Regions from separate parts of the Homo sapiens genome. Here region 2 is linked to region 1. A link means that fine-mapping ties the variant in region 1 to the expression of a gene that starts in the linked region. Tissue or cell type: whole blood. Region 1 holds a variant in brackets; the other region holds the start of a gene. All regions are shown on one strand. Distances are from middle to middle.

Region 1 (2,600 bases):
TGTCCCTCACTTCCTCCTAATTCCTAGAACTCACGCAGAGAAGTTTGTTCCAGCAGAGTGTGGGAGAGGAGATCTGTAATCAAACACTTGGCCAGGTCTCAGGGTCTTCCCTCAGGGGAAAGTTGAGGGTTTGTGTGTTTTGTTTTGTTTTGTTTTGTTTTGTTTTGTGTTTTAAATAAAGCCCTCTGAAGTGTTGTCTTCCACACCCTCCTTGACCTAGGGCCTGGGAAATCCAAGCTGAGTTTATCAGACCTCCCACTTAGACACCCTGCATTCAACTGCAGCTACCCTGCGTTCAATTGCAGACATAGCCCTGTGTACTCTGGTTCCTGGTCAAGGTCAAAGACAACTTTGTTAGTAAACTAAAAGTCTCCCCTTACCTCCAAAATCATGATTTAACTTGTGGAAATTGTTGCTAACAATGTCTCTGTCCTATGGCTCTCTCTGTATCTTCCATGGACTCCCACACGAGGTGGATATCATTTCTGGATGGTTATTTGAGCAGGATCCCCTCAGCTAAGTTGCTGTTGACCTTGTATAGAGGAACTGGTGTTGCATATGGGCTGCAGCATGTTATATTTTTCTCACACTTCAGAACCTTATCTTAGAATAGACCAAATTCATAATAACCCTGTAATTCAGGATGGCCAGATGTGATAATGCACTTAAGTTTAAAAGCGTATTGCAAATGTCAAAGCAAGATGCAAATATAAGGTTTGATTATTGTGATTCAAATGAATGTCTGGCTCCCCTTACCCAGGTTGACATGCCCTCGTGGTCTGGATTAGAGGTGAAATCACTTGAGATCTTGTTCAGGCAGATGCAACGCAGTACACAGCCCATGAATAGCCTCCAAGGGCCCGACTGGCATTGCCCTACAGCATTGCCACCATTTGGGATGTTGACCTCCAAGTCTATTAGGTTATCTAGGGGAATTTTTCATCACATCCCTTTAGTTGCAGG[A/G]TAATTTTGAGGCTATTTCCTGTGTTGCCAACGTGTGTTAATTTTCATCTTGATTAAAAGGCAGAAAGGGGACATTGGTCTCTGGTTTCTCTTTCTTCCTCTCTGTGGCTTTCTCTGTTCCTGTTTTCCCTGCCTCTCTTTCTTTCTTTCTTTCCTTTTTGCTCTGCATCTGAGCAGCAGAAGAGATGGAAGGCTTAGGCTGCCCCACTTTCCTTGGCCGAGCTGCCCCCCTGCTCCCCACTTTGTGCCCCACCCAGCACTTCAGTAAGTCGATATAGATTTGATATTGTGCAAAGTTGGGATAGCTACGTTTCCTTGTCAGAGATTCCAGACAGTGCACAGAGCACCACACAAAGAAAGAAATCCTCGTGTGATTCACACAGTCCTTTGCTTTCTGGATTGGGCAGGAAAAATGGGAAAACATATGCTATTTCCCCTTTTTTCCACTTTGTAGAATTTAAGAAAAAACAAAAAACACTTAGGACTTTCTTTTAAGGAAACCCTCCAGTTGGGCACCGTAGGTTTTTTGATATTGAGTGTCCAACACCTGCTTTTAGAGTCTCCGCTCTTCCTGGCCATGAGAATTTAACAGATAATTTAATGTTACTTCTGGATGTTCTATGATAAAATCACTTTCATACTCACACTAGATCCTTGAGAGTAGGAAGAGCTGAATTTTACCACCAGCCTCAATCACATTTTATTTGTGTGACCTTAGGCAAGTTTCTTCATCTTTTGTGGGCTCACTGGCCTTGTATGTAAAGTGAATTGAATATTCTTTCCCAGCCTCACAGGGTTGTTGTGAGGTTGTCATGCAATGTGATAAGGAAATGATCTGGGAATGTTCAAAAACAAGCCAAACACTATGAAAACAGGGTGACAATGTTGCTATCATCAAGTTATTTCTAATCCCCAAACTTAAAACCTTTGGCCTTGTGTCACATTTTTGACACTCTCTTTTGCCTTTGGTATTTGAAAATTTAAGAGCAGCTCTTGTAAGAAATCCCACCCCACATACATACATCCTCAAAAAAAAATAAGTAATTTTTGAAAAATAAATGACATGGACTTAGCTAACCAAATTGACATAGATCCAAGATGGGCTTGAAAGAATCTTGCCTGTTGTTTCTTTTCAAAATTTTGATCTGTGCTGTTATTTTGTTTCCATTGTTTGGGTGGCATGATATTTGGATTCACCTGGTTTTTGCCCATGCATGTACTGGAGCTAGCAGCATTTGCTCAATACTCAAACACCTAGGAGAAGTTGGTTAGAGGTCCCTGGGGATGGCTGGCTTACCGAAGGAGACAGGTACCACAAGCCCAGTCAGCAGAGGCAGCATGAATCTCATTAATCCTGATTGGCTGCATAGTCTGGAAGATTTCTTGCCCGCTCACAGAAATCAATCAAGACTTGGGGGACCAGGTCTTTGCTTGTCATGTGTGGACATTATCTGTGCCTGGCTGAGTCCCCACTTGTTGCTACCCAAATTTTGAACCAAGCCATTTGAAAATGAACTGCCTCTCTTGGTTAGGGGCCCTCTTCTTAACCTTCAAAAGGCCTTTGCCCCAGAAGGCTGGCACCATTGAGTCAGGCCAACTTGTGTGGTGAAATGAGCAAATAAGCCAACACAGGTATA
Region 2 (2,600 bases), 210 kb before region 1:
AAGACTATACCTATTTTGAGAAATTTGGGAACATTTATCTCAGGGGACAGTCAGGGGCCAATACACATTAGTGACAATCTTAGCATATGAAATTCCAGTGATCAGCGACTCTTTAGTGCTTGACTCAGTTTTTACAGAATGAATCTTATTCTACCTTAATTCCACATGAAATGGGTTTGGTCTCCCTTGTAGAATGCAGGAGACTTTGAGCCTGGGTTGGAAGGCTGGTGACCTTGGGTAAGTCACTTCCCATATCTGAGCCTCTGCTCCTTTGTCTGTGAAAGAGTGGTGCTTATACCTATGTTGTTAGGTTGTTGGGGGATATAAAAGGGTAATAACAGTTGCTACTGTTTATTGAGTGCTTGCTATGCACCAGAGACTGTGCTAAGCTTAGCTTTGCATTTTTCTTTGATCTTTTCAAGAGCTCCTCTCATTCCCGATGTTCCTTACCCTGCAATATTTTTTCCCATAGCACTTTACATTTTGTATGATATTATATAATATACTTACTGTGCTTATTTTTGGTCTTCCTCTCCCAGGGCCTCTTGCCTCGTACAACTCCAGGGGGCACCATTCACAATGCTTTCTACTCCAGGGGTGCTTTTTACTAAGAATATTAGCATGAATGGTGGAAACTGCTGGAGTTGTGTGATGTGGAGCCCCGGGAGCTTCAGAAGGTCAGGGATTTTTGTGTGTGCCAGTTCTGATCATTGCTGTATCCCTGTACCCAGAACGGTGCTAGACCTATAGTAAGCATTCAGTAAATATCTGTTGAAAGAATGAATAACATAGCCTCCAAAGAGAGCTGATTTTACTATCTAGGAAACTGAGGCTCAGTCTGACTTATGAATTTGCCCAGAGCCCCACAAGCCAATGACCCACCCAGCTGTTCTGCCTCCAGTGTGCCTGCTCTGCGTGGCTTTGCTAAGCTGCATGCCTTTAACTCCTCGCATCGTCTCTGCCACCAAGTAACTGCTCAACAAATATTGATGCTTTTCCCTACATGGGTCAGGCCCTCTGCTAGACTATCCCAGTAGAGTGACAAACCATCATATAGCTGTTGATTCCAGAAACTGAATTAAATTGCACAGTGCAAAAAAAGGGAGGATCTTAAGTTTTTGGAAGAAAAATCCCTAACCCAAGTGCTAATGTTTGGAGTTTGCAGAAGCCTCTCAAGACTTACCAACCCGATTACTTTTCCTGCTGCCTTCCCTTTTGTGAGCGTTTCTTCCCCTTTTTGCTTGCAGTGAGTTCTGCTCTCCTGTAGGCTACAATGTGTCAGTTGTTATAAAATCCGGGAGGCGGAGTCTAGTGACGTGAGCAGTGGGGGAGAGCTCAGCCAGCCCTGCAGGGCGAGCAGTCCAGCCTTGTGTTCACCGGAGCTTAAGCGTTGCAGCAGGAAAACTTCCATCTCGCTCTCCTGGCTTTGATCCTCACTGGACATCAGACCAGAGGCACCGAAGGGAGGGAGGATGCGAGATGACCGGCCCTTTGGCAACCTGACCATCGACTTAGCAGAGCCTTCAAAAGCAAGCCAGGGGCTGGCTGCACGACCAAAGAGGCGCCGCGCCTCTCGTGGATGTGTGTGTGTGAGTGATCCAGCGAGTGTGTGTGCGTGTGAGGGTGTGTGTGTGTATGCCTGTGTGCACAGCACAACTGTGTGCGTGTCCCGGTGAGTGTGCCTGTGCATGCGTGAGTGTGTGTACGTGTGCATGTGTGTGTGAGTGCGCTTGGTTATTACTATTATTATTATTTTTGGAAGAAAAATCTTTGAAAATCTGGGGCAGGTTACTGTGCTCCTAGGGTGATTCTTCTTTTGCAAGAGGAGCTGACCAGGGCAAGCTACTAGAGCCATTTCTCGGCAAGTAAAGAGATTTTTCCTTCCAGAAGGAGAAGGATTTTTCTCCCTGCTCTGCAGCCAAGTGAAAGAGATTAGTCCCTAAACCTGTGAAATCGACCAGAGCTGTGTGATTACCAGGGCTTGAGAGAGGACTCGAAAAGAAAAGGAGAAATAAATCAAACAGCCTGTCAGTTCCTTTGGCCACGTCAGAAGATGTCATCTCAAACTAAGTTCAAGAAAGACAAAGAGATCATTGCTGAATATGAAGCCCAAATAAAAGGTGAGATGCGGGCTGGGAGAGTTTTCCTTCTCCTCCCCTTTCGTTTTTCTCTTGTTCTGGTTCCCATCCCCCGCTGCCCCCCGTTTTCCTCTCTGCCATTATGAAATGTTATGCATCAATAATCTTTTTGTGAGGAGTAACAGTGGCAGCCGCACAAGTCCGGACTGGTTTCAACTGCAGATAGCGCTGGGGCTGGGAGTGTGGATTATGGAATGGGCAGCAGTCTCTGCATTGCAGGTGTGTGAGGAGGATCCTATGCCTGACTTTAGGAGTGTCGCTGATACCCCATCATCTTGGCGGTGACATGTCACTCTAAGGCCATTTTGATAGTCACTACCTCCACCCCTTCCCTGCCATGGTAAAAGCCCTTTAATATTGGGGTATTTTTTTACCATCTGCTCTTTTTTTCCTCCCCCTTTTTGGTTTCTGTTGGTGGTGGTGGTTTTGCCTCCGCCTCTTTCTCTGGGCCGGAATTCACAT

What was found. PIP is the estimated chance that this variant, and not a neighbour inherited with it, causes the effect.
Region 2: SRGAP3 starts here. The variant in region 1 is fine-mapped to the expression of SRGAP3 in whole blood (TOPMed, PIP above 0.99).

The regions. Positions count from the first base shown.
Region 1 is chr3:9,034,130-9,036,729 of GRCh38, reverse strand. All of the region lies in intron 11 of SRGAP3 (SLIT-ROBO Rho GTPase activating protein 3), which reads left to right. Among named protein-coding and RNA genes, the nearest start is that of RAD18, 72 kb to the right of the region's middle. The variant A/G (reference allele first, on the strand shown) is at 964.
Region 2 is chr3:9,248,405-9,251,004 of GRCh38, reverse strand. SRGAP3 (SLIT-ROBO Rho GTPase activating protein 3) reads left to right here and starts at 1,359. Exons shown (of 22, transcript NM_014850.4): 1 at 1,359-2,120. The coding sequence starts at 2,054. It overlaps SRGAP3-AS4 (SRGAP3 antisense RNA 4), which reads right to left and starts at 1,249. Exons shown (of 3, transcript NR_146969.1): 1 at 1,184-1,249. RefSeq lists an enhancer at 1,341-1,580.